Linked DNA regions of Homo sapiens. The protein of the gene in region 3 purifies or fractionates together with the protein of the main gene of each other region. This does not show direct contact. Each region holds a gene or a part of one and is shown on either strand. Other genes may lie near its edges. The genes, in order: AP3S2, GDA, SLC38A6, EDIL3, RBFOX3, HM13 and CYB5A.

Region 1 (4,533 bases), on a different chromosome or scaffold from region 3:
CAAAATACAAAACATGCTAAGCATCAGCACTTTTTAAAACTGACAAAGACATCTTTTGAACTAAAGCCTTTTATCTGACTCTGGGGGAAGTGGCAGCAGTGGGGAAGTGGTACGAAATGATGAGGCTACCTAATTTCTAGTTCAATAAAAAGGTAAACTACCAATTGCTTACATGCCTCAGTGATTTTAATAACCCCTCATATCTTTTTAGTACTCTGTAGTTTTCAAGGTACTTTCATCCATGAGCTCATGAGGTCTTATAAAAATCCTATGATCCAAAGATACACGAATGGGCAATAAGCACATGAAAAGATGCTCAACATCATTAGTCATTTTGGAAACTGAAATCAAAACCACAATGAGCTGGGTGCGGTGGCTCACGCCTGTAATCCCTGCACTTTGGGAGGCCAAGACGGGCAGATTACTTGTGGTCAGGAGTTCGAGACCAGCCTGGCCAACACAGCGAAACCCCATCTCTACTAAAAATACAAAAATTAGCCAGGCATGGTCGTGGGCACCTGTAATCCTAGCTACTCAGGAGACTGAGGCAGGAGAATCACTTGAACCCGGGAGGCAGAGGTTACAGTGAACCGAGATCACGCCACTGCAGCCTGGGAGATAGAGTGAGATTCAGTCTCGGAGGGAAAAAAAAAAGCCACAGTGAGATACCACTTTACACCCACTAAAATGTCTTTAACCAAAAATAAATAAATAAATAACGAATGGCAGGGATGTGAAGAAACTGGAATCATTATACATTGCTGATGGAAATGTAAAATGGTGCAGCCACTTGGAAAATTTGTCAAATAGTTTGCAGTTTCTCAAAATGTTCACCACAGTTACCATATGATCCAGCAATTCTACTCCTAGGTATATAACCAAGAGAAATGAAGTCATAAGTCCACATAAAAACTTGCACAAGAATGTTCATAGCAGCATTAATTAGAAGAGCCAAAAAGCAGAAATATCAACTTATAAATTGACAATCAAAATATGGCATATCCATATAATGGAATATTATTCAGCAATAAAAGAAATGAAGAACATCAGATACATGCTACAACATGGATGAATCTTGAAAACATTATACTACATGAAACATGGCAGACACACAAAAAACCACTTATTTATGATTCCATTTATAGGCAACGGAATAGGCAAATTCCATTTGCCATTCTGGAACTGGCAAATTTAGAGGGAAAGAAACTCTCTGGGGCTGGGAGAGTCATGGAGAAATAGGGAGTGACTGCTAATGGGCAGAGGTTTCTTTTTGGGGTGATGAAAATGATCTAAAATTGATTGTGGTGATGGTTACACAGCTTCTGTGAACATGCTAAAAAACACTGAATTGTCCCCTTTAAATAAGTAAACTGGGGCCGGACACAGTGGCTCATGCCTGTAATCCCAGCACTTTGGGAGGCTGAGTCCGGTGGATTGCTTGAGCCCAGGAGTTCAAGACCAGCCTGGGCAACATAGAAAGACCCCGTCTCTATAAGTAAATAACATAAAATAAATAAGTAAACAGTATGGCATGTTAGTTTTATCTCAGTAACCCTGTTAGAAAAAAACTAGGGGGGAAATTTGCATACACACAAATGCAAATACAAATAGTTACGCTGAATACTCATATACATACATATATATATATACTTTTTTGTGTGTGTGTGTGATGGAGTCTCGCTCTTTCGCCCAGGCTGGAGTGCAGTGGCGCTATCTTGGCTCACTGCAAGCTCCGCCTCCCGGGCTCACGCCATTCTCCTGCCTCAGCCTCCTGAGTAGCTGGGACTTGGAGGTGCCCGCCACCGCGCTTGGCTAATTTTTTGTATTTTTAGTAGAGACGGGGTTTCACCGTGTTAGCCAGGATGGTCTCCATCTCCTGACCTCGTGATCCGCCCGCCTCGGCCTCCCAAAGTGCTGGGATTACAGGCGTGAGCCACCGCGCCCGGCCTGAATACTCATATTTTTACCTCGATGTAATCTACTTAATAAAATGTAATCTAGCTTTAAAAATCTTATGAAGGAGTAAAATTATTTTTTCATTTCTAATTGACAAAAGACAATAAAAGTCTGAAAAGGGTTTATTAACTTGTCAACAGACGCAAGAGTAGAAAAGGTGGAGCTGAAGCCTGAACACGTTTTCTGGCTCTTTCCCCTCTTCAGTTCCACCAGTCCCCCAATTATGTAACATTTTGAAACCCTGCCATGAAGAAATATAATCTTCGAAGACAGGAAGCAAATACTGATGTTTATGTGTTTGCAAAGGAACGTGTTGGGAAAATTCAAATTTACGTAATCACTTATTGAGCCCTTATGCGGCAGCATTTATAATTTCTCATCATTTTTCCACTTTTAAACTGATTTTCTTCAACCCTAAGAGTGAAGGGTATCTAGTCTCTGGAAAGTCCCAGCCAACACTGAAGCAAAATAATTCCAAAAAAAAAAGAACTTTTCCAGTTCTGGCTATAACAAAAACTTTCAGAAACTTAATATTTCTTCCTCATGAAACTGTGGTCAACAACCAAAAAGATGACAGAATGTGACTTCAATCACTCAAGTTCTCATCGAGGCACACTCCCCACTGTCGCTTCTATCTCGTTCCCAGAGACCCACGGGAAAATGTCACAAAATGGCACAGAAATGCCAGGATCAAGAAAAGGGTCAGCGAGAGCGGGGCAGTAGGGCGGGAGACAGAAGGCCTGGCACCAGCCTGCGCCTAGATTAAATGCTTAAGTAGGGCGAGGGTCATGCTCGGTGCAGGAGCCCCAGGTGACCAAAGAGCGGTGCCCCCGGGCGCCGAGAGGCCAAAGAGGAGGGAAGACATAGTGGGCGCCCTGAAGGGGCGTGGTGAAGCCGGGCCGCACTCACGAAACGCTGGTAGAAGCGGACTAGCCGTGGCTTCCCATGGTTGTTGAAAACCAGAATCGCCTGAATCATCTTTGCCAGCCACGGTTCTCTCAGCACCGGCTACTCCCAGAAAGCTCCTCCTTCCGCCACAACACGATCACTTCCGGTTGGTGCGCTGCTGAGAGCGGCACTCGGAAACTTGGCCCCGGCGCTCACGAGCCCTAGCACCCAAGGGTCCGGCCTCTCTGACGCCTTGGAGGGCAGGTGCGGATGCCGAGGAGAGTGGTCACCTCGGCCAGCGTTGGTTGGCCAGTCAGGATGCGAATCCGGATCTATGTCCCTCGCCCAGACCGACGGCTGGCCCCAGAAGCCGAAACGACCGTCAGCCGGGTTGCCAAAACGGAGAGGCGGCGGGAGCTTGCTTTTCTCACCGCCCGCTCCAAATCATGCACTCCCGCCATCCCCTTAGCGCTCGCAGAACGTTCCGCGGAGTGGAGACGCCGGTCATTCGGCCGTTCGTCGGTTATGGAACATTTCGTTCATTTTAATTTTTCAGTATTATAATGCTGCAGTGAATTACGTAGCTGTCTCTCCGTGCAGATGGGCTGTTCCTCTATGGTAGACGGTGAATGGTGGAATTAAGGAATTTTTAGTGCATTTCCATTTAAAATCCCAAATCGATCAAGTTCTTATTTTTGTTTGTTCTTTTAATGACCCAGTGTGGGTGAAGTGGAGCATGTCCGTATACTGCAGATGGAGCAGCGGATACAGATGCAAATCGATCCAGAGGACTGTTTGGCGATATGGATCAGAAGCCTTTAAAATATATAACAGTCCGGGCGCGGTGGCTCACGCCTGTAATCCCAGCACTTTGGGAGGCCGAGGCGGGCGGCTCACTTGAGGTCAGCAGTTCGAGACCAGCCTGGCCAACAAGGTGAAACCCCGCCTCTACTAAAATTACAAAAATTAGCCGGTTGTGGTGGCGCGCGCCTGTAGTCCCAGATACTTGGGAGACTGAGGCAGGAGAATGGCTTGAACCCGGGAGGCGGAGGTTGCAGTGAGCTGAGATCACACCACACTGCACTCCAGCCTGGGTGACAGATATATAACATATATATATATATATATAAAACATTAGACTCAGCGTTTCCAGCTCTAGAATTTATGATAAAATGATTGTGGATGTGTGAAAAGATTTAGCCTGAGGAACATACATTTCTGCCAGAGTATCTTCAGAACAGTAAAAAAAAGAAGAAAAAAATATATATCTCAGCAGTGTTATTACAGGGGAAAATGGGAAGAAAATTATTACAAAAATGAGAAATTGGTTAAGTGCATTGTTCTACATTGAATATGAGAAATATTAAATAGATAATAAAAATCATGCTGGGAAAGATTTATGATACGGAAGTGTTCATGACACCTGTTAAGCTAAAAGATTACACAAAGTATGTACAGGGACAACCCACTTTGCTCAAGATTGGAGGCAAATACACCAAAATATGAATCATGTATCTGATGGAATGGCAGAGTCAGGGTGTTTGATCTGTACAGGACCCTGGAACCACACTGCCCTGATTCAAAGCATGGTTCTGCGGACTGCCTGGGCACCCTGGGCAAGTTTCCCCATCTGTAGAAAAGGTGTAATATCAGTTTCCTAAACTGGAAAACTGGAAAATGAGTCTACTG
Region 2 (4,070 bases), on a different chromosome or scaffold from region 3:
TGCCTCAGCCTCCTGAGTAGCTGGGACTACAGGCGCCCACCACTACGCTTGGTTAATTTTTTGTATTTTTAGTAGAGACAGGGTTTCACCATGTTAGCCAGGATGGTCTCAATCTCCCGACCTCATGATCCGCCCGCCTCGGCCTCCGAAAGTGCCAGGATTACAGGCATTAACCACCGCGCCTGGCCATACTATTCTTAACTGAAACAATGCCAATATTATCTGTGAGGAATTTTACGCAGTCTTACTAGCAGCTCTCAGCACTAGAACCTAGTCCTCATCAAAGGTGCTGGAAGAATTCTATTTCAGCAAGAAAGCTGAGGCTATATGGGACAATGGTAATTGTTTTTACAGTGTCTCCATCTCTGTCATAAGAGATTTTTAAAAACCTTTCTGCCTCTCTCCTTCCCCTGTAATTCATTTAGATAACTGGCCATTAGATTAATCTTCCTTAAAATACCACTTTCATCACATCACTCACACCTGGACTCAGAACCTTTTTTGAGTCTTTGGTGCATATTTGAGCTCTTCTACAATGTGAACCCTCCCATCTGCCTACCCTCTTCTCCCACTGCCCCCAGGCGATGAATCCACTCCTCTAGTTAAACTACTGTGGTCCCTGCATCCACTATTGACACTCCTGTTCCCATACCTGTGTCCTTCCCCTATCTAGAAGACAGTTTGTCCTCTCCTCATCTTGTCTTTACTTCAAAGCCCAGTTTAAAGGACCCTTTCATAAAGCCTTCCCAGATGTCGTAGTTCTGGGTTCTCTTTGCCTTCTCTGAAGACTGTAGTATCTATTTTCAGAGTCACCCATTAGGTCAGGTCTTTTGCATAAGCAAACAGTGGCATCAGTGTATCAGCCAACAGTATTTACTGAGCACCTGCTATGTGCCAGGTACTGTGCTGGGTACAAGTTTTGGAATCATCAACCCGAATCCAGAATCAGCTCTTCTTACTAGCTGTGCAACCCTGGGCATGTTACTTATCCTCTCTGAGCGTCAGTCTAACCATCTGTAACATGAGGACATCAGTAACCACTTCAGAAGGCTGTTTGCTGCTGAACTAATTCTTCCAGAGTGCTTTGCACAATGCTAGACGTCTAGTAACAGCACCATAGTTGTTACTAAGGTTAGTGATCAATGGTGTAGGTATTCTGTCTGGCTTCTCAAGGGCAGAGACTATTTTTTATCTCATTGCGTTTCCAGCATCTAGCACAGTGCCCTGACTCTAGCCAATAGCCACCATGTATCTGCTGATATAAGAAACTATTACCACAACTAGAATTAGTAAAGTTTCCCTAAAAAGCCCTAAATTAATACACAAAATTCAGACTCATATATATCATTCTGTAACCAAAAATTGTAAGTAAATAATCAGAGTACTTAGAAAATAGAAAACACTCTATGATACAGTTTTCTATTTTCTAAGTACTTTAGAAAATTTCCTAAGGGCCACAGTGACATATAGACACGTAATTACTTGCAAAAAATGTAATGCTCATGTTCTAGCAATTAAAAGGCAGGTCTGCCCAAAAGTACATATAAGTTGTTTGCCACGATGGTCTGGCTGTCTTTGCTTGAGGTGCCCATAAATCATGCTTCATTTGCTCACCTGTAATGTCGGCAAGGAGCAGAGATGAGTCAGTGTGAATTGTTGCAAAGTAACAAGCTGTGGTTGTTCCATTCTTTAGTGTTCTCCTCTAAAAATAAATCACAAAAACCGCGAATCACGTGTGCTCAGAAAAGTCACATGGTACATCCAGAGGAAAACAGAATTTTAGTTTTTAATTTTAAAATGTTTTTATTTAAAGGTATGCCATCTTGATGTAGAGTACAGTTAGGTAAATGGCAAAAGGTATTTATATTCCAAAAGTTAGCTGGAGGAGAAGCTGATACTTCTGATTTTTTCTCGATTCACACAGTTCTGTGCTTCAGAATTCATTAAAATGTGATACTAATGAATTCCTTCTTTCTTAGGATTGTTTAAGGATATCCAAATTTTATTGCATCTGGGAGTACATAAATAAGTTTTTCTTCTACTACAGAATAAAAATATTCAGCCAGACTTTAGCTCAACCTGGAAGGTTAATCACATATATCTATCTCCTTTCCTTCGCAAACTACAACAAACATGACAGTAAAGGAGTACAAACGTTATTAACCCACAAGAAGAACATGAGAGGAGAGACATGAGCAGAGAAAACATTTCAATATCTTCTTGGAAGACAAAAAACATGGACGAGAACCTGGAAGCAACTTGGAAAGAAGGAGAGAAGTGTGTGGGTTTTAGCAGGGGACTGGCTGGAAGTCTATGCAGGTATGATTAAACCCTGGCAGGAACCTTGTTGAAATCAGCCAACCACCCTTAACTTCTTCCTTATAAGAGAGATTTACTCTTTATAGAACCTGGATAGTATTTAGAGGGTACAAGCTCCAAAAGAGAAGGTAAAGCAGAGGTTTAAGTGAAAATCTGGCTGACCTCAAGGGCACTCAGTCATTTTCCCCAGAATACCACGTGTACTACTCCCACAACTCCTGGCAGGGGACTAAACGATTATTTTCTAGAGAAAATGAATGGCTCTAAAAGAAAGATGTCTTCACAGTGACGTTTGGGACCCAAATTCACTGCCTTCACTACTCATCCTATAATGAAGTTACCATCAACAAGTGATACCTCCACCCAGAAATTCCAGTCAGCACCTTATAGCATCACAGTATGAATGTATGTCCAGGGTTTGATAGGCATTGGAGGGAATCTATTATCAAAAAGATAAGGAGGGGGAGAAAGAATCTGGAAAAAATCTTAGAGGAAACATAATCTATAAGGTCAGAAAAAAGCTCAGTTAAAAAAAACAACTATGACTCACATCCTCAAAGAAATAAAACACACTATTGCACCCACAAAACAAGAACAGAATGCTATGAAAATCAGAATGCAGGAGCTCTCCAAAAGTAAAAATATTATAAATGAAATGTGGAAGCCAGTAGGAGGGTTGTAGGATAAATTACAAGAGAATTGCTCAGGAAAAGGAAAAGATGAAAATCAAAGGTGAGAACATAAGAAAATTAGGCTCAATCTAGGCAATCCAACATTTAGAATAAGAAATCTAAATTTTTTTAAATAAATGGAAGGGACAAAAATATGAAAAATAATATTCATCTCCAAAATTAAAATCCTCATAGAATTGTCAGCACAGGGAATAAAAAGAGAACCCAAAGTAAGGCATATAATTGTGAGATATTAAGTTCGTAAGTACAGAAAAGATGCTAAAAACTCCAGGAAAAAAAAAAAAACTGGTCACAGATAAATGACAGGACTCACAACGACATTGGATTTCTCACTAACAATGCTGGAAGCAGAACAATGCCTTCAAATTCAACTCATATATATCATTCTGTAACCAAAAATCCTAAGTAAATAATTAAAGTACTTAGAAAATAGAAAACGCTCTATTATATAGGTTTCTATTTTCTAAGTACTTTAGAAAATTTTCTAAGGGCCACAGTGATACACAGACAATTAAGTACTTGCAAAAAATGCAATGCTCATGTTCTAGCAATTAAAAAGGAGGTCTTCCCACAAGTACATATAAGTTGTTTGTCACAACAGGAGTTATTTTTAACATATAATTTTATACCTTGGTAAATTATCAATCAAGTGTGAAGGTAGCATAGAAATATGATTAAGTACCGAAGGACTTGAAAATTTTACTCTCCATGAACTCTTTCTTAGGAAGCTTTTAGAAACTGTCTTTTAGTAAAACACAAGAGTAATCCAAAGTAATTCCTGGATCCAGGGAGTGGGCATTAAACGCAGGAAAGAGGCAAAGAGAATGCCAAGATTACAGTAGTGCTACAGAGAATGCTGACCAGAAACAAGAGAATGGGAGGAGGTGAGAAGATCTTCAAGAAAGAAAATGGAACGGATATTGCCTGACCTGTCTGAGCACTTGGAAAAAGGACTAGTGGATTGAATACTTTGGGGCATATCTTTAGCAGAAGCTTTTAAATGCAGAGGAAAACCCTCCAGACAGTGGCTCTTGCTTACGTTTTGCCTGTTATTAGCTA
Region 3 (3,513 bases):
ACAATGAATATGTATACTAAATTATCTCTTTGGAACTTTTCCATAATCTAAGGGTTTGAACATTTGTGCTGTTTGTTTATAAAGTGCTTTCACACGTGTTGTTGAATTTAGTCCCCATGATAACAATATTAATACGCAGGTAGGTCCAAAAGTGTTAAATGATTTGCCTAAGATCACATAACACAAAGGGGCAGTGCCATACACCTACTTCTTTTTGGTGCTAGAGACAGCATCTTTTCCTCAATACCACAACGTTTTCTAGAATCTCAGAGCTTGGTGCATGTTACGTTTCATCTGTGGATTCATGTTTTATGAAAAAAAGAGAAGTGTTAGGGAAATGTCTTACTTAGTAGGCCAGTGTGTGGTGGTCAGCAATAGGATTTATACATGCCGACCAAGCTTTGCTCCAGTGTTCTTGCATTCTCACAATGTCTCCCTAACCTCAACCCAGACAAGGGGAAAGAAGACTGAGGGTGCTCAGAAACACTGGATATCAGTGTTTTGTGGGAAAATATCAGTTTGTACTTAAAATAGAATGGTGCCTTTTAATTTGAGAGTGTTTCAGAAAGGATACTTTGAGGGAAACCAAAAACAAAAGGAAACATACCTCTGTTCTCAGGGAACTTTAAGAAGAGATGAGATGAATACACATAGCTATGATAGAAAGTGTGATATACACATGTAAGTGGCCAGAGAGTTCTAAACAAGAGCTATGGAGATTCTAAACTGTGATGACATAGAACATGTTCAAACCCCACCAGTAACTAGCAACTTACACTGAGTCTCTCAGTTCCTACATCTTTAAAATGGGGATGGCCATATACTAAACTATAGGGTTACTGAGAACATTACATGAGTCAATGAATGTGTGCTGATGTTCAAAGATGTGGGGGAAGAGATTCTCTAGAAGCAAGGAGCAGCACAAACAAAGCAAAGGGAATGTGCATCTGAGAAAATAAGTGGTCTAGTAAGTACTACAGTGGATGAAACAGTGTGTGGGTGATAGGGCTGGAAATGCATTTCAGACCTAGTAATACAGTTCTGCATGAGATGTGGCCTCAACCTGGTAGGCCACAGAAATGCAATAATGACTTACAAAGAACAGTGTATTATGATCTGAACTAAAGCAGGAGTACGGATTGGAAGAAAAAGAGACCCCAAACAGGCATAACAGCTACTGTTACAATCACTGAGAGGTAAAGAGAATCTGAACTAGACTAGTGATAATGGAAACAGGAGAGAAATGAATTGTCCAAAGTATCAAAAACATACTTTACACAATGTGGGATTTGGACTAAGTAGGAGACTAAGAAGAGCCAGGAAATCTGGATTCTATTTCCAAATCTGTGAGATACTTGTGAGTCTTTGGAGAAATATGGCAAACTATTTTATTTCCATTTTCTGAATCATAAAATGAGCTATTAACACTTCTTGCTTAACAACCTCATAGACTTTTTAAATGGCCTGGTTATTATGCAACATTTGGGCACTGGCCTGGCTCACCAGAGGAACCCTTTTCTCTTCCTTTCACAGCTGTAATCAGAGCAAGTATCATTAATCTAGGTACATACCTATAAGTCCCTTTAATCTGACAAATTTAGAAATTAAACTTTAGGAGCTCTGGATAAAAGGATCCAAAGCAGCTCCTGAATCTTGAAGAACTAGATTTATTACAAATTCAAAATAGATGTCACATGTCCACTTTCTACTTTCCCAGGATGAAAACACTTCTTCTGAGCCAGTCACTCTGTGTTCTTAACTGAGCCATAACATATGTGAGGGATAGAGTGGTGCATGCTTCCCTGGATTCAGACAAATCTCTACAAATCTCAGAAAGGGCCTAATGGTGATCTCTGCAAGTTATATATGCCATTGAAGTCAGGAGGCTGTCCTGTTTAATACACATTGTCAAACAGGGTATTAAGTTTACAAAGATTATCACAAAGTAGCAGAAATAACACTGGATTAGTATTCAGGAAACCTGCCTTTAATTCTGTGACAGGTCACTTCACCTCTCTGGGCTTTAGTTGTTCATCTGTAAAATGAATTGGAAGCCTTAAGTTGAGGCTAGCCCTTATAAGATCTCAGGTTCAACCAGCAATTTCTTCCTATGACACAAAGCTCCTGTTATCCTGGTAGAAAGATATGATCAAAGGTTTTTCTTGGTTATGATTCACAATCCAAGAGCAAATCAATATCTGCCTCTTCTGTCTTTGGAGAAGAACTTACTACTTTTGTATCATTTATTCTATTTATGTATGTATGTATGTATGTATGTATGTATGTATGTATGTATGTATGTATGTATCTATCTATCTATCTATCTAATCTATCATCTATTCATCCACCCATCTATCTGCCTACCCACCTACCTATTAATCAATCATATACCTACCTACCATGTGATTTTCTTAGATGTGTATTTCTCTATTATATAAAATTTGCATACTCTGAAGAATTTGCATTAGTGGAGAAGAGATTAAATCAGAGACAACATAATGGTTTTACTTGATATTAGACAAATCCCTGTCTAGGAAACATGCCATCTACATGATGAAAACCTTTAGCCTTTGTGTTCAAGCAGCAATGTTAGATAGATAGATTATACATAGATACATACATAGATAGATGCCTAGAGCTTAAGTGAGTCATATTTTTCTAAAAGATCACCTTAACAAAAACTTGGAATAAAGGAAATCTGGCTTCTATAGCACAATTTCTGAGTAGACAACACAGTAATAAAGGCATTGGCTTTGGAGAGAGACAAAACTAGATTCAAATCCCAATTCCACTATTAACTGGCTTCAAGTATCTGGTCTAATTACTCAACCTAAATGAACCTACACTGAGCTTGCAGAATTGTTATAAGGATTAAGTTAGGGAGTATATATAAAATACCTGACACTGTCTTAAATGTTAGCTCAATAAATGTATTAGCTTCCATCCTTCCTCCACATCCCTTTCAATCTAATACAGCTACAATTTAATACAGTTTCTAAGCACCTAATGGTGATTCATCTAACAATTTCTCAGCCAGCCTGGATATTGGCAAGCCATCTGAGGTTTCTTCCAGATAGTTCTATTTATCCATAGGGAGAAGAAGGAGGTCAGTTTTTTTGGACTTTTTCTTATTGCTGAAGATCCCTAAATATAATAGTGTTTGTGCCAGGTAGCAATTTTAATAAAAGAAATATATAGCTATTCCACTATACAAAATATTTTTGGATCCCAAGAGACCCTGTTACAGTATCTTATTGACACAGAAAAGTCTTATTGAGTTCAAGTCTGTATAAAAACTAACAAACCCAACATCCAAAAATAAAGTTTATATATTTAAGTAATTTTGTTTTATTAATGATGATCAGAAAAGCTTGACAATCTGTTTTAACTTTCTTTGTAGCGTCTCTAGCAGGGCACCATGCTCACATTGGAAATAATGCTTTTCCTGATGGTGTACACAGAACTTTACTTTTTCTTGAGGTTCTTATCAGAAGAGGAAAAAAAGTCAACATA
Region 4 (4,070 bases), on a different chromosome or scaffold from region 3:
GGTGTACTATACAAGAACTAGTTTACAGGCATTTGGTATAAACGAAAATTGATTTATGGCTAAGAGGCAAGACTTCCATACTTGAAAAACTGGGCCAAAATCTCCTTCAGATACTTTCTTTGTTCAGATTTCTTAGGCATTCTTATATGTCTCATAAACATTTCTTTTATCTATAGAGCTCTAATAAGGTTGCCTGAAGTTCTTGTTTTGTATTATGAATTTATATTTACATGAAGTTGTTAAAATTGCTTCTTAAGTTACACTTGACTTTTTCAATCTATAGCAACATGTGCAAAATGAACTCCAGATAGTGGAAATGGCACATCTATACAGTTTTATCACACTTGTGAAGGATCGATTAAGGTTTAAAATATGCACAGAATAATAGAAAATAATTATATCATATTTACTAATGAATAATCATTCCAGAGACATTTTTAATCACTCTAGTTGAAATGCATTTGTAGGACTGTGGTCATGATAAAACTTTAGACATTAATATTCATAGCCAAAATTCAGAACAGTTGAGAGATGATATCACCAGTTTACATCAGGGTTTCTGTTTGGCAAATTATGTTCGTGAGCTTCAATGATTGCCATCTTTCTATAAACCATAAGTAGCATGCTTTTCCAGTGTTTACTCTGAGAAACACCTTATTAATGTTTCATATCCGATTGTTCACTTTACTTTGTCCCAGTATTGCCTACTTAACACTATGCATCATTCTTCCTTTCAAAGTATTGTGTGAAGTTTTAATTCCCTTTATCCCAGTGGCTGTAGGCAGAAATAACCTTAATCGAACAGGACAGTGATCAACACTGAGAAAAATTTAGATTTATTCTCTTAAGAACAATAGTTAAAACTTATTTTACTTTTAAGGTCAGTGGGATGATGATAATTTGCTTTTGGTCTGAAGATGATAATGAACTCAGAGAAAAACAGCTAAAGTAAACATGAAAGGTTTTATATTAGAGTGAGAACCTCAAATATAATGGGTGAAAAACTAAAAATTATTGTTATTCAATAAATTTTTAGGAATTATATTCAATGTATTCATTTTATAATTGTGTTCTTTAATAATATATTTTTAATGTTATTTTTTACAAAACTTTACCAATTTTCTTTTTTTTTTTGAAACTTTTATTTTAGGTTCAGGGGTACATGTGCAGGTTTGTTATATAGGTATACTTCATGTCATGGGGTTTTTGTTGTACAGATTATTTTGTTACTCTGGTATTAAGCCTAGTATCCATTAGTTATATTTCCTAGTCCTTTCCCTCCTCCCATCCTTCACCCTCAGGTAAGTCCCACTATCTGTTATTTCATTCTATGTGTCCGTGTGTTCCCATCATTTAGCACCCACTGTAAGTGGTGCTAAGGGAAAACATGTAGTATTTGGTTTCCTGTTCCCACATTAGTTTGCTAAGGATAATTAGTTTGCTCCAGCTTCATTCATGTTCCTGCAAAAGACATGATCTGACTCTTTTGCAGCTGCATAGTATTCCATGGTGTCTATGTATCAGATTTTCTTTACCCAGTCTACAATTGATTGGCATTTCGGTTGATTCCATGTCTTTGTTATTGTGAATGGTGCTACAGTGAACATAGGCGTGCATGTGCCTTTATCATAGAACAATTTATATTCCTTTGGGTATATACCCAGTTATGCTGTGGCTGGGCTGAATGTTAGTTCTGTTTTTAGTTCTTTGCGGAATCTTCACACTGCTTTCCACAATCGTTGAAATAATTTACACTCCCACCAACAGTGTATAACCATTCCCTTTTCTCCTCAACCTTGCCAGCATCTATTATTATTTTACTTTTTAGTAATAGCCATTCTGACTGTTGTAAGATGGTATCTAATTGTGGTTTCATTTGCATTTCTCTAATGATAACTGATTTTGAGGGTTTTTTTCCTATGATTGTTGGCTGCATGTATGTCTTCTTTTGAAAATTGTCTGTTTATGTCCTTTGCCCACTTTTTAATGAAGTTGTTTGTTTTTTTTCTTGAAAATTTAAGTTTCTTATAGATGCTGAATATTAGACCTTTATCAGATGCATAGTTTGAAAAAGTTTTCTTCCATTCGGTAGGTTGTCTGTTCACTGTGTTGATAGTTCCTTTTTCTGTGCAGAAGCTCTTTAGTTTAATTAGATCCCATTTGTCATTTTTTGCTTTTGTTGCAATTGTTTTCCGTCTCTTTGTCATGAAATATTTGCCATTTCCTCTGTCCAGAATGGTATTGCCTAGGTTGTCTTTCAGGGATTTTATAGCTTTGGATTTTACATTTAAGTCTTTAATCCATCTTGAGTTGATTTGTGTATATAGTGTAAGGAAAGGGTCCAGTTTCAATCTTCTGCCTATGGCTAACCACTATCCCAGCATCATTTATTGATTAGGGAGTTCTTTCCCCATAGCTTGTTTTTGTCAGCTTTGTGGAGGATCAGATGGTTGTAGGTGTGCAACCTTATTTCTGGTCTCTCAATTCTGTTCCATTGGAATATATGTCTGTTTTTGTATCAGTATCAAAACAGTACTTTTGGTTACTGTAGCCCTATAGTATAGTTTGAAGTCAGGTAATGTGATACTTCTAGCTTTTGGGGGGTTTTATTTTTGTTGTTGTCTTCAGGATTGTCTTGGCTATTTTAAGATAGTATTTTCTAATTCTGTGAATAATGTCATTGGGAGTTTGATAGGATTAGCATTGAAATCTATAAATTGCTTTGGGCAGTATGGCCATTGTAATGATTTTGATTCTTCGTATCCACAAGCATGGAATGGTTTTTCCATTTGTTTGTGTTATCTCTGATTTCTTGGACCAGTGTTTTCTAGTTCCCATTGTAGAGATTGTTTATTTCCCTGATAAGCTGTATTCCTAGGAGGGTTTTTTCGTTTTTTTTTTGTTTTGTTTTGTTTTGTTTTAGCAATTGTAGGTGGGATGGCATTTCTGATTTGGCACTTGGCTTGACTGTGGTTGCTATATAGGAATGCCAGTAATTTTTGTATGTTGATTTTTTACCTTGAGACTTTGCTGAAGGTGTTTATCAGCTTAAGGATCATTCGGGCCTAGACTGTGGGGTTTCCTAGATCCTTCGGGCCTAGACTGTGGGGTTTTCTAGATATGGAATCATGTCCTCTGCAAACAGGGATACTTTGGCTTCCTCTCTGCCCGTTTTGGATGGCTTTTACTTTTTTCTCTTGCCTGATTGCCCTGGCCAGGACTTCCAATACTATGTTGAATAGGAGTGATGAGAAAGGGCATCCTTGTCTCATTTCTGTTTTCAAGAGGAATGCTTCCATCTTTTGCTCATTTAGTATGATGTTGGCTGTGGGTTTATCATAGGTGATTCATAATTTTGAGGTATGTTCTTTCAGTACCAAGTTTATTGAGAGTTTTTAATATGAGAGGTGTTAAATTTTATTGGAAGGCTTTTCTGAATCTATTGAGATGATCATGTGGTTTTTGTCTTTAGTTATGTTTATGTGATTATTCACTCTTATTGATTTACATATGTTGAACCTACCTTGCATCCTGGGGATAAAGCCTGCTTGATCATGGTGGATAAGCTTTTAGTTGTGCTATTGGATTCAATTTGCTTGTATTTTGTTGAGGATTTTTGAATTGATATTCATCAAAATATTGTCCTGAAGTTTTCTGTTTTTGTTTTGTCTCTGCCTGGTTTTGGTATCAGGATGATGTTAGCCTTGTAGAATGAGTTAGGAAGGAGTCCCTCTTCCTCGATTGTTTGGAGTAGTGTTAGTAGAAATGCTACCAGCTCTTCTTTGTATATCTGGTAGAATTCAGCTGTGAATCCATGTGGGCCTGGGCTCTTTTTGGTTGGTAGGCTATCTATTACTGATTCAATTTCAGAGATTCTTATTTGTCTACTCATTTGAATTTCATCCTGACTCAGTTTTGGGAGGGCGTATATTTCCAGGGATTTATCCATTTCTTCTAGACTTTCCAGTTTGTGTGCACAGAGGTGTTCACAGCAGTTGCTGATGGTTATTAGTAGTATCTCTTTTGTCATTTCTAATTGTGTTTATTTGGATCTTCTCCCTTTTCTCCTT
Region 5 (4,070 bases), on a different chromosome or scaffold from region 3:
CATGGCCAGGGGTGGGAGGGGGTCCCCGGTCTCCTTTCCCAAGCTGGGGGCCGAGGGCAGAGCACAGGCATGAGCGTCTCAGGAGTGGAGCGGGCAGCTGGGCCAGCAGTCTTAACCCGCACTTTCCTGTCTGCCCCACTCCCTCTTTGTCTCTGTCTCTGCAGCAATTCGGAAAAATTTTAGACGTGGAGATCATTTTTAACGAGCGGGGCTCCAAGGTGGGTGCCGCACGGAGCTGCCGCCTTACAGCGCCGGCTGTAGGTCCCGCCAGGCTAACGTGTGAAATGTGCGTTTCCTTCCTGGAGAGCTTCGCGCCCGAGGACCCCTGAGCGACACGGGTGCTTGTATTCCCCGCTCTTCCGCCCCCACCCGCCCCGCCCCCACCCCAGCTGTCTGTGTTGTTGCTGCCGCTGCCGCTTTTTCTTTCTGAGCCACCAGGACCTCTTGCCTGCACCCCAGAGCCCTGGGCCCCAGGTCCGGGCCCCACCCCCACTGAACACTTACCCCAGGGGACCACTGGCCTTGAAGCTTGAGGGAGGGGCTACAGAGAGGGCAGGCTGGGGAGGGTGTCCGGCGGAGACAAGCCCTACTCCCCTTCCAGGAAGGCACGACCCTCTACCCTGGGCTCCGAGGGTGGAGATGGGTGGGCTGCCCCTGCAGGTCCTGAAGCCCAGCCTGGGCCCCCTACCCCAAGGTGGGGTTCAGGGGGCAGGCCTGGCCTGTGGTCAGGTATGGCGTCTCTTATGTGGCTTTGGCCTGTCCCTTTGGAGATGCCGGGTGATCAGCTCAGGCTGGGCTCAGGCTGGGTCAGCAGCTGCCCCCCTGGGGCCCATACCCCTCCTGGCATCCTGCCGGTGGCCCTAGGACAGACCTCTGGGCTGCCTGCGTCTCTGCCTCAACTCACCTGACTCAACCCCTTCTCTCTCTCTCCCCACTCCCCTGCCCCCCTCCCACTCCTCTTCTTCCTCGTCTTCCTCCTCTTTCTCGCCCTGTGTCCTCCTCTCCGTGCCTGTCCTTCCCTCTCCTCTGCTCACAGGGTTTTGGGTTTGTAACTTTTGAAACTAGCTCAGATGCTGACCGAGCCCGGGAGAAGCTGAATGGGACGATCGTAGAGGGACGGAAAATTGAGGTGCTCAGATAAGTGTGCTGCGGCAGGGATGCCCCAAGATCGCCCACCTGCCCCCCAGCTCCCCCAACCAACCAGCCCTGCCACTGCCGCACCCTTCAGAGAGCCTGGCCAGGGTTCCCTGGGGTGGGAGGAAGGGTCGCACTAAGGCCAGGGTGCTCAGCTGCCGGCTGAGCCCTATCACCTGTCACCCCTTCAGGCTCACCCGAGGTCCCCTCTCCCCTGCCTCTTCCCTCCTTTTCCTAGGAGAGGCGCTGTCCCCAACCAGACACTGGAGGAGCCCCAGAAATCCTGTATTTGGGGCTTGGCAGCTTCAAGGACCATGGCCAGCCCACCCGGCCAAGGAGCCATTAATCCCCAGACCCTGCTCACCATGGAGCAGCGGCTGTCCCCAACCTGTCCCCACATGGCCCAGTCTGGGCCCTGCAGTTTGCCCCCACCTTGGCCCCACTCCACCCCTTGTTTGGGTAGAAGCAGAGGCAGCAGTGGCAATGGCCAGGGCAGAGGAAGAGACCAGGCCCCAAGGAGGAGCAGGGAGAGGGGCCCTGGGTCCCTCCCTGACACCCATCCCGCTCTGTCCCCTCCTTCCCTGCTCCCCAGGGGTCCAGAGTGCCAGTGGGCTGTGTTCCCTTGCTGCGGCCTGGGTGTCTGGAGCTGGGTACCCCAACAGGCAGGGCAGCCAAAGGGTGGCTGGAGGAGGGCTGGGGCCAGCCACCATGACAGAGCCCTCAGGCAGGCAGTGAAGGGCCTGAGAGGAGGTTTCCAGACTTCTGAAGGCACTGGCTTGGCCAGGCTGCAGCCCCACGCCCTCGGGGCTCAATGGAGGACGCAGGGGAGGCAGAACAGCCCAGACCCCTTCCTGGGACCCATCACCCCTGCTATTCTCGACTCCCTCCCACACATGCCTCGTCTTCTCCATCCCAGGCTGCCCCTGGACAGCCTCACCCAGGCATATGTGTGGAAAATAGGTGACTTCGTGCCCAGAGCCCCCCTCCCTGTCGGCCTCGTCCTCCAGGGGCACACGGGCCCCATCAGAGACCTCTGTACTCTGCAGCATTGAGGACTCTGGCCTCGGGGGAGGGGGGCATCATCCAGGAGGGGTATGTGGCCATCTTGGTACCCATGCCTAGGTGGGCCTTGGCAGCCTCAGGGAGGAGGGGGCATCCTGGAGTCCAGCCTCTTAGCTGGTTCTGGTCAGAGAGCACTCTGTGGAGAGTCCACCAGGGAGCTGCTCCAGCTGTCCTGGGGTGCCTGGGAGCCTGGGGCTGGGTTTATGGGAACAGCCACATGAAGGATACAGGCCAGCAGGCCTGGGTCTGGGGTCCTGGGCCAGGCGGGGCTTTAGCCCGTGCTGGGAGCAGTGGGGGCCAAGGCTCCCGGAGGGCAGGCAGCATGGTGGAGAGAGGAGGCTGGGGCGGGGGGTGCCGGGGGCTAACGGAGCAGGGCGGGGAGGAGTGGCCAGTGGGTCTTCCAGGAGGCTAATCCTCCCTCTTCCTCTCTCTCCTTCCCTCTTTGAACAGGTCAATAATGCCACGGCCCGAGTGATGACCAACAAGAAGACGGGGAACCCCTACACCAACGGTAAGGGGCTGGGTCCCCCCACAAGGCTGCTGGGGTCACTGGCTGGGACAGAGGCCCTGGGGGAGCTGAGGCTGCTGCAGGCTGACCTTCCTGGATCCTAGGCAGCCTCCGTCCCCAGTGTCCCAGCCCTGGGGCTGCCGCTCTGCTCCCGGTCAGAAGCGGGTGGGGCAGAAGAGGCGGGAGGAGAGCTGGGGGCCACTCACCCCTCTCATGGCCCCATACAGTCAGCCATAGCTGGAGTCTCACTTTCCCAGGCGTGCCTGGCCCCCAGAGGCCACACGTGCAGGCTTCTGATCCAGGGGGATAGCTGTGCCTTCCTGGATTAGGACTGACTTTCCCCCAGGGCCAGAGTTTGAAGGCTTCTGTGCTGAGACCTGCTGCACCGATTCCCAGTGTAAGCAGGCTCAGGGAGGGCAGTGAGGGCACGGGGGGCCTTGGATGAGCTTCTAGACCTCTCTGAGTTCCAGTCTCTTCATCTGCAAAACAGGAATAGTGACACCATCCCCCAGAGCTGTTCGATGACAAATGACACCTTTAAGCACCATGAGGAAGGGCCCGGGGGGAGGTGCTCAGATTTCGGAGGATGTGATTACAGTAACTGCCTTCCTGGGGCTTTTTGACATGGGTGGCCCTGAGGCCCCAGGCTGAGCCCTGCTGTCCACAGCAAGGGGAGACTGAGGAATCTTGTGTGTGTGCACCCCACTGCAAACGGAGGTGGCCGGTCTTCCTTGGAGATGGATCTGCCGACGCTAAGTGCTGGCTCTGGAGAAGCAGGGGGACCACTGGTGGCCACTGCGAGTCTTAACTCCATCCGGCAAGGGGCCTGCTTTGAGCAGAGCAGGCGTACGTTGGGGGCCTCCGCTCATTCCTGCCAGGGAGCAGCTTCCCACTCGGACCCCTTAGAAGCCTCAGCGCTGCCCCTAGACGGGATGGATCTCCCTGTTGCCGTGGACTTTCAGACGGTGTCACCCCCAGCCTCTCATGGCCCCCCATGTGATCGGCCATACGTGGAGTCAGGTGACAACCAGCATGGAAGCCTGGACAGGACCGCCCGATCCGCCACCTCTCCCCCGAGCTCTTCTCCTGGTGTCCGATGCTGGGGTGGGGCCGGGCCTCTGGCCTGGCCCAAGTTAGACTTGATTCTCATGGCCTCATATCCTGCTTTTCTGAGGACTTACACATCTCAAATTCTTTTTAAAAATTTGGGAGTGTTCCCACTTTGCAAGCATCCCGAGTGCGTCCTGGGTGTGACTCTTCTGTGATCTGGCACTTGGCACAGGAAGTAAAAGCGGTAGACATTTTTATAGGGTACAGGTGATCAACCAGCGGGGCTGCAAAATCTCTGGAACCAGCTGCCCACTCT
Region 6 (4,070 bases), on a different chromosome or scaffold from region 3:
CAGGGTCCCCTCATGTCCTGGATCCCCTTTCCAAGGATTTTCAGAGAGGTACCCACTTGGATGACTGGGGAGAAGGGCTGGGCTGCTGCTGGGGAGTAACACAGGCCTTGGGGCAGGGTTCAGGAGTTCATTAGTCTGGAGTCCAGATCGCCACCCAGGGCCCAGCCTGATGTAGTGTTCGCGTTCTCTCAGCGCTGCAGTTTTCCGATAAAGGAGAGGACTCCTGTGTGCCAGAGCTCTGAATGGGAGCCTCTTCTCAGTCCAGCCAGGCAGAGGGTGAGGCTGCCACCTTATGGCCACTGGGGGAATTGGCTCTGGGCTTGGACTCCAATAAGGGGCCGGGAGCTGCAGAGACCTCCAAAAGGTCTCTTAACTAGTCCTCCAAACCAGGTCCAGTCACTCTCTGTGACCCTTGCCATACGCATGTTACTCTCACCTTACACGCCATTGAAGCCCTTGAGCAGAAGTGAGAGGCAGTTCCACAATGGTTGTTCTTGGTTTTTCTAATTATGGGCTAGGGGCCTTTTGACCTTCTATAAAGTAATACTGTACTAGGACTAAATGAGTTATTAGCAAAAGAGTTTAGCACAGTGCCTGGCACAGAGTGATTAAAAAAACCCCAGCTTTTGTGATTAATTCAAAGATGGCTCGTCTGTATTTGGGCCCTGGGGAAGGGGAAAGGGGACAGAAGCAGCAAGCCCAGAGTTCCATGGTTACTGGGTGGTGCTGGGATTCACAACAGGGCTCCCTTAGCCCCTGTTCAATGCTGCGTTTCCCATGGCCAGGGCTTGAGAGCCTGGGTGTGGTTTCCATGCTGACCCAGGTTTGAATCCTGGCTTTACCACATACTTGCAGTGTGTCACCTGAACTCCAGTTTCCCCACCTGTTCACAAGGATCCTCATGAGTGCAGAGCCTGACATGTGGAAGTGCTTAACAAACAGGAGCTCTTATTATTTCCAGTAGAAAGTAGGGCAATCCTGTCTGCTCACTTTCCCCTGAATCTTCCCCTCTCCAGGCCACACTGAGGGCTCCCAGTCTTTGTGCTATGTTGCTTCATTCTGTGGCAGCTCAGTACTCCATCCTCATCTTGGTGGGAGAAGGAGGCAGAGCCTGGTCTACTAGGGAGTAGGGGGAGGGACGCCCCAATACCCAACACCCACTCCAATCCTGTTCTTCTCTGCCTGCTTCCCACTACCAAGGCTGAGAAGCCAAATCCTCTTTCCTGGACTCTCCTGTAGCCAGGGTGGCTTTAGGACCCCAGTCTGGCCCATGAGATGCTGAAAGGGTTCTGGGAAAGTTCCTGCCTTCCTGATGAAGGCAGCAGGCATGGCTGTTACGCTTTTCCCTCCTTCTTGCCTCTAACGTGCCCATGCTGCCTAGAGCAGTGGCAGCCATCTTGCAACCACAAATGGAAGGCCAAGAGAATCACAGACATGACTGCTCCAACACCAGTGGGGAGTGCCTATCTCTGGACTGCTTGCATTTACAAATAAATCCCTCTGTAAGTCCCTCTATTTGCAGTGAGGCATTCCTGACACTCTGATACCGTCCTGCCCACCTGAGCATGCTTGAAGATGTGCATGATGAAGATGGTAAGGCCCAGGCCGAAGATGTAGGCTGCAAAGCTGGTGTAGAAGTAGGTGTGGGTATTCTTCTTCAAGCTGCAGGGAAGGTGTGAAGAAAGAGGAGGAGGGTTAGATATAGGGACTGAACTAGTAATACCCCTTCTGAGGGAGCTGGGGAAGACCCTAGAGGTTGTGGGGGGGTGACTGAGCTCTGGGCTGGGAGTCTGGAGGTGGGTGTGCACGCTGATACTGCCCCCAGCTATGTGTCTCTGGACAAGTTGCTTTCCTTCTCTTAGCCTCAGTTTACTCATCTGCAAAATGGGAAAATGAGCTCATCTCCTTGGTAGTTATGAATATCAAATGCTGCAACTTATAACAGTGGCTGTAAGACTTTAGTCAGCATAAAAATCATCTGGAAAGCTTGTGAAAAAATGCAGGATTCTAGGTCCCACCCCCAGGGAGTCTGATCTAATAGCTCTAGAGCAGGGCCCAGGAATCTGCATTTTGAAAAAAACATCTGAGGTGAATCTCATACCGTTGGATCATGCTTTGAGAAACACAGATACAGAAACTGCAAAGATAAGTTACTACTTTTAAGTGCAGTGGACGTAATAGTTCAATAGCCTATTTGTGGTACTAACTAGATGCTGGCTGCATGAATAAATGCCAGTGGCTTCCTGGAGGTGATTCATCCAAGATCAGCTTCAGAACAGATGAATCATATACAGCCCGGCATTGCCATTACGTGACTTCCCTCTCCAATGCCAGCTCCGTAACCTCTGCATGTCCCCAGCACCTGGGATGTGCCCAGCCAGTACTATGGACTCAATTAACATTTGTGGAATGAATGAGTGCTTCTGACCCCCTTCTCTCCTTGTCCTGGGTGCTTCTAAGCCTTCGGCTGCAAGTACCTTGAGAACTCACCTATCTTGAGAACTGGGATACAAGTGACTCCCTTTGGGAATGTTGCACTGATTCTGGAAATCAGCTGAGGAGCTGCTTATGCTGTGAGCCCAGGCTAAAAAATGAGACTCTGTCTCTGAGGGTGCTGGCAGTTGAATCTGTCTCCAGCAAATAGCCTGGGGGCTTCTTATGGGTTTCACTTTGTATTACCTCTGAACAGCCAGGAGTAGAGACGGCTGGCACAGACATCCCTCTACTTACAGACTGGCCAGGTCTCTTCCAAAGGTGACTGTGAGCCCATATGCTCCTAAGGTTTGAAGTGGCACTACACAAATAACCCAGGTGTATGTGAGTGGGAAAAACCTAAGTTTCACATGGAAACTGGATTTCAATGATGCTGGTAGTAAGTTTCTCATTACCACTGTCACTGTTATTACTGCTTTTGCAACTATCAGGCATGAGGAAATCAAGAGAAGTTCACAAACCACCTCAAAGTTAAGTGCAACATTGCCAGCCCTCACAGGGATGACGGGGCATAAAATGATGGAGCTGTTGCTGGCGCCCCCTGCTGACGGCAAGTCCCATTGCATAGGTGCATTAACTTGGATAAGACCTTTCTTGTGTTTTAAACGCTGACCTAAGTTGCCCACCTTCTCCCCCTCGTGCTCACTGTCTACAACAGACTGAAAAATGTCTGAGTAAAGAGAGGGCAGGGAACAGCTAGAGCAGCTGAGACATGGTGACCTGACGCTAGGCTGATAAAAGATGATGATGATGACTGCAACCAGGATTCAACCAAGAGCGACTGAGGTCAGTGTGTGCTCAGCACTCTCTCCAGATTTTCATGGTAGGAACTCTTGTTATTAACTCAAGATGAGAAACCAGAGGCTCAGGAAGGTCAGGCCACTTGTCAAGGTCACACAGTGAGAAAGCACTGTGAGTACCACCAGGCCCTTGTGGGTTTAAATCTCTTGGCCTATGATTCTTAAAACAATTTTTTGACCACAGGCTCTTCAAATACTTAGAACTTCAAGATGCAAAATGCAGATAAAATCAGAATTGCTCTGGCTGCTGTGGGGGTGGAGGGTCTGGTCTCCTGAGGTACCTTCTCTGGGCTCCTGAAGGCCACTGGAGAATCCCTGGAGAAGCCCATGCTGGGGCAGGCCCTCACTCACTCACCTGATGTCAAAGCGCAGCAGCAAGGCAATGAAGATCCCTGTGGGAGAAAGCTGGGGTTAGAGAGTGGCAGGGAAGCAGCAGGGCAGTGAACTAACAGGAGACTGGGTCCTGGTCCCCAACCTGGTGTTCCATCTTGGAGCAATCATTGGAGACCAAGGGTGTGGCCAATACTCTCAAGTGACAGCAGAAAGTCCCATTTCTCTACCTAGAACAATGAGAGGGGCCCAGGATTTTGCTTTGGCCTGGGACTACAATGACCCAGCACCTCACCGCATCATACTATGTCACACCGTGTCTGCCCAAATGCTTATCAAGTGCCTATGTACCAGGCACTATGGGAAATGTAGGAGTAGGCAAAATCGCTGCTCCCACAGAGCTCAGCCAGGGGGACAGGGTAGCCACACTATGACATACCTCAAATA
Region 7 (4,070 bases), on a different chromosome or scaffold from region 3:
AAATTGCAAATTTATTATCTATTCCAGCAATTTTAAAATCTTAGCATCTATAAAAAGTATTCATAACTACAGCAAGAGGATTTTCCAAATTGTGTATATATGAATAAAATTAACAAAAATTACTAGAAATAATCAAAATATACAAAAATATTAGTTAGCTATTAGAGGACACAATCAGTTCTGAAACAAAAGAATCACTGAAGGTAAAATATGATTGTCAAACTAGAAAGTTAAGTTTGAAACAGCCAACGGAAGGCAAACACAAACATCCACGGCGTCGTTAAAATGAGGGCAGGCATTTCACCAACGTGCTGACAACTCTGGAACCTCCCACCTGCCCTCCTGCTGCCTTTGTGGTTACCATGGGAGAGCGCTAAGGTTAAAACACTACTCTGGCACCAGCATCATCAGCAACAGCCATGAACTCTAAAGAGGGGAACTTGAAATAATCGTATCACCTTTTGATTGTTGATTATCTTCTTGGCTCTGTAGCCCAGGATGCTTGACAGTTAAAGGAAGTTTGAATTACCACTTTGCACTTTGATGGAAAAGTAATTGGTCTTTAGTGGTCAGTGCTCTGAGGGCCTCACTTGGGTTTAGGGACGTGACTATCAAAGAATGTCAGCAATGAACAAGGAGAAAGAATATGGTTTTTATGATTGGCTCTGCCACCTGTTCACTCCATGACTTCGAGGTTCAACTTCAGTAAAAAGAGGTTAACAATTAAATCAGTGTGTCAAAGTCTGGGCATGGTGGCTCAGGCCTGTAATCCCAGCACTTTGGGAGGCCGAGATTGGCGGGTTGCTTGAGTCCAGCAGTTCGAGACCAGTCTGGGCAACATGGTGAAACCCTGTCTCTACAGAAAAATACAAAAATTAGCTGGGCACAGTGCTGTGTGCCTATGGTCCAGCTACTCGGGAGGCTGAGGTGGGAGGATTGCTTGACCCCGGGAGGTGGATGGTGCAGTGAGTCCAGATCCATGCCGCTGCATTGCAGCCTGGGCAACAGAGTGAGACCCCGTCTCAAAAAAGTAAAATAAGTATGTCATGCATAATGACTTATAAAAGTCATGTGAATCAGTGTAAATTACAGTAAGCTCCATAAATTATGAAAAGCATGCAAAGCCCAACAAGCTTTTGTGAATCAGAGTCATCTCATTTATAAGTTCATCTAACGTAAACTTTAGTGGGAAGCCTATCTCCCTTAAAATACTGACAGAGTGATGTCTAACACGGCAAGCCCAGAACCTAGAGGAGAAGCTTAAGGGACTGCAACTGACCAGCCTGAGATGGGTGCTAGATGGTTCTGGAGCACGTCTGTGAGCCGGGTGCTTAACACTTCCCAGCTGCAATGTACCTACCTCCCTTGGCAGGTCTAACATGGAGACACTGTGAGGACCAAATAACTTCTACAAGAATGCTTTCAAAACTATAACCAAGAAGGGGTATTGCTACGACTAATATTCTCTATGTAAGCAAATGTGATAGAAACATTTATGTTAGATTAAAATGCATGATTTCTAAGTCTACAAATATCTTAATTTGGTAACTTAACACTATGCTTTCCTTAGGGCAGGTTCAAGCTAATAATCTTTACTGCATTTTATTTCACTATTCAACTAGATATTTTAAGCAGGCAACATCTCAAAACTTTAGACCACAGTGTACATTCTTCAACCTGGAGATCGGCCGATGGTTATACAGACACATGACAAAAGAAATCCCTAAGGACACTCTTTACTTCCACTAAACCAAAAGCACAAGAAAGATACATCCAGAAAAATGCTCATGTATTTCCTTTCATTTCATCTGCTTATGGCCTCTCAAAAAGGCCAGCAAGTTCTTGTCCCACATTCTTCCGGTTCTGCTCTCACTGAAGCAAAGTCACAATAAAGAAGAGTTGTTTAAAAAATACTCAGAAGTTAGTTAATCTGTAAAATCTCTGAAGAGAGTAAAAACATCTACTTTAGGCTGGGTGCCGTGGCTCACACCTGTAATCTCGGCATTTTGGGAGGCTGAAGCAGGCGAATGCCTGAGGTCAGGAGTTCAAGACAAGCCTGGCCAACAATGGTGAAACCCCATCTCTACTAAAAATACAAAAATTAGCTGGGCATGGTGGCAGGCACCTGTAATCCCAGCTACTCGGGAGGCTGAGGCAGGAGAATTGCTTGAACCCAGCAGGTGGATGTTGCAGTGAGCCGAGATCACGCCATTGCACTCCAGCCTGGGTGACAAGAGCAAAATTCCGTCTCAAAAACAAACAAACAAAAATCTACTTTAAAAAGTTAGTGTGATTCTCAAACTTCAGTGAGACCTTCTACATCTAACAAGCTGATCAAGTATCAACTGCTAATGCTGGAATGAAGTAAGCCATGTCTTAACGCACAAAGGGCTGTGCCTCAATGTTGTCAGGAAAGCTTTCTTTGATACTAAAAGCTAAAGTCCCAGAATTTACCACATAAACTTGCTCTGTTCCCAAAATATTCTCAGTATCAAAGTAACTGCCACTTTAAAATAGAAAATAAGAACAATAAATAGTAATGGGCAATTAATCCAACAGAGTATAGGCTGTAATACACGTGTTCTAAAAGCAAATAAGGAAGAAAGTCTTTGTCCTTTAAACTGAAAGTAGTTATGGCAGGAGACACATGTACAATCTTACACCTACAAGTGTTTTCTGCTTGTAGTCTTTATGGTTAGCGAGACGGCTGGCCCTGCGGTCATCTAAGTTCATCTAATGAATCTTAAACCTTTGTTTTGCTATAGCTAAATGACTTATACCAAAATGATTAACATGCTGAACACATGATAAAAAAAATATATATTCTTCCCTTAAGAGACTTCAGAGAAAAAGGAAAAACTTTATGCAACACAGAATTTCAGCTGTCCAAAAAGTAGCCTCAAAAAAGATGCTAAAGTCAAATGAACTCACAGCAAGGATTCTAAGCAATTGTCACAGAGGCCATTGAAATTCTGAAGTCAACTTTTTATCTCCTGGAAGTACTCATATCATTCACATTGAACTTAAGTCTTTCTTGAATAAGGAGAGAATATAAAAAAAATTGCTTTGTACTAAATAGTATTACACAAGACTTTTATTGTACTATCAGGGATGTTGAGGTAAATGTGGCCTTTATGCTTATATTATTGGATTAACTGCTTTGATCCTTTTGTAGATTAAAGATGATGTCTTGGCAGCAACAGCTCAAAAAATCAGCTCACCAGTTCTCGACACAAGCTCAGTGGGGTCTTGCTGTTGCACTTTCTCTAATGAAACCAAGAATTTACACCAAAACGAAAAATTATACTTTCTTTTTTGTCATTTGATTTAAGCAAAACTTTCCCCTGTAGTCCTTTAATTAGACACTAGAAACTATTTTGCCTACTTGTACTTTTCAGGAACTTAGGCTGTGCTCTTCCATTCTCACCCTACATTTATCTTCAAATATAAGTGAGATGGTCAGTTCAGAGAGAAAGGCTAGTGAATCAGAACATAAAACTAGTATTGCCAGAGTTATTTTCCTTTCCCAAGGAAAAGTAAGTCAAAAGGGTATTATTTAATTTCATTAAATTCATCTGACAAGTATTTATTGAACACCTACTATGCCCAAGAGACTTAAAGATGAAGAAGACATGAGACACACCCTTAAAGATTTAAGTAATAAAACCACTATCCATTCAGATTTTAAGTTCTCTGAAAATAAGGCTTGTGTCAAATCTTTTAGATCAGAAGCACGTGCTACCATAAAAAGTAGCTCTTCAAATGGTATATATTGATAATTATGATGAAAAAAGTAGTTTACTGACAGCCTTAAAAAAATTACACACACGCCATCCTAACAAATCATACTGACAGGTTTCCGTAAATAAAAAATACTTGCTGAGCCAGTAGGTTACATATTCATTTATCTAGAAAGACCTGTGCTGGCATCAGTCAGGTAAATAAAAACCCTCTGCCTTCAGTTTGACAAGTATTAAATACAACGAGAACATCCAGAGATACTTGAGATGGTCACACTTACCGGAGGCTTGTTTAACTTTGGTCTGTCATCCTGCAATGAAAAGATAAGG

What was found.
Region 1: the proteins of SLC38A6 (region 3) and AP3S2 purify together in Homo sapiens (affinity purification with mass spectrometry; one large-scale study listed by BioGRID and IntAct). This does not show direct contact.
Region 2: the proteins of SLC38A6 (region 3) and GDA purify together in Homo sapiens (affinity purification with mass spectrometry; one large-scale study listed by BioGRID and IntAct). This does not show direct contact.
Region 4: the proteins of SLC38A6 (region 3) and EDIL3 purify together in Homo sapiens (affinity purification with mass spectrometry; one large-scale study listed by BioGRID and IntAct). This does not show direct contact.
Region 5: the proteins of SLC38A6 (region 3) and RBFOX3 purify together in Homo sapiens (affinity purification with mass spectrometry, with the first as the bait; one large-scale study listed by BioGRID). This does not show direct contact.
Region 6: the proteins of SLC38A6 (region 3) and HM13 purify together in Homo sapiens (affinity purification with mass spectrometry; one large-scale study listed by BioGRID and IntAct). This does not show direct contact.
Region 7: the proteins of SLC38A6 (region 3) and CYB5A purify together in Homo sapiens (affinity purification with mass spectrometry, with the first as the bait; one large-scale study listed by BioGRID). This does not show direct contact.

What each region holds. Positions count from the first base shown.
Region 1 is NC_000015.10:89,891,016-89,895,548, forward strand, and holds the start of AP3S2 (AP-3 complex subunit sigma-2), read right to left. Parts: upstream 2,980-4,533; 5' UTR 2,935-2,979; coding exon 2,866-2,934; intron 1-2,865. UniProt on the Homo sapiens protein: Part of the AP-3 complex, an adaptor-related complex which is not clathrin-associated. The complex is associated with the Golgi region as well as more peripheral structures.
Region 2 is NC_000009.12:72,208,319-72,212,388, reverse strand, and holds part of GDA (guanine deaminase), read right to left. Parts: coding exon of another isoform or gene 4,051-4,070; intron 1,703-4,050; coding exon 1,615-1,702; intron 1-1,614. UniProt on the Homo sapiens protein: Catalyzes the hydrolytic deamination of guanine, producing xanthine and ammonia.
Region 3 is NC_000014.9:61,046,770-61,050,282, reverse strand, and holds part of SLC38A6 (solute carrier family 38 member 6), read right to left. Parts: intron 3,484-3,513; coding exon of another isoform or gene 3,362-3,483; exon of another isoform or gene 3,329-3,361; intron 2,133-3,328; coding exon of another isoform or gene 2,128-2,132; exon of another isoform or gene 2,036-2,127; coding exon of another isoform or gene 2,004-2,035; exon of another isoform or gene 1,986-2,003; intron 968-1,985; exon of another isoform or gene 880-967; intron 295-879; coding exon of another isoform or gene 284-294; exon of another isoform or gene 1-283. UniProt on the Homo sapiens protein: Amino acid transporter with an apparent selectivity for L-glutamine and L-glutamate. May facilitate glutamine uptake in excitatory neurons. The transport mechanism remains to be elucidated.
Region 4 is NC_000005.10:84,101,457-84,105,526, reverse strand, and holds part of EDIL3 (EGF-like repeat and discoidin I-like domain-containing protein 3 isoform 1 precursor), read left to right. Parts: intron 1-4,070. UniProt on the Homo sapiens protein: Promotes adhesion of endothelial cells through interaction with the alpha-v/beta-3 integrin receptor. Inhibits formation of vascular-like structures. May be involved in regulation of vascular morphogenesis of remodeling in embryonic development.
Region 5 is NC_000017.11:79,100,221-79,104,290, reverse strand, and holds part of RBFOX3 (RNA binding protein fox-1 homolog 3), read left to right. Parts: intron 1-164; coding exon 165-218; intron 219-1,036; coding exon 1,037-1,129; intron 1,130-2,646; coding exon 2,647-2,707; intron 2,708-4,070. UniProt on the Homo sapiens protein: Pre-mRNA alternative splicing regulator. Regulates alternative splicing of RBFOX2 to enhance the production of mRNA species that are targeted for nonsense-mediated decay (NMD).
Region 6 is NC_000020.11:31,559,226-31,563,295, reverse strand, and holds part of HM13 (signal peptide peptidase), read right to left. Parts: intron 3,686-4,070; coding exon 3,649-3,685; intron 1,663-3,648; coding exon 1,560-1,662; intron 1-1,559. UniProt on the Homo sapiens protein: Catalyzes intramembrane proteolysis of signal peptides that have been removed from precursors of secretory and membrane proteins, resulting in the release of the fragment from the ER membrane into the cytoplasm.
Region 7 is NC_000018.10:74,256,894-74,260,963, forward strand, and holds part of CYB5A (cytochrome b5), read right to left. Parts: intron 4,052-4,070; coding exon 4,022-4,051; intron 1-4,021.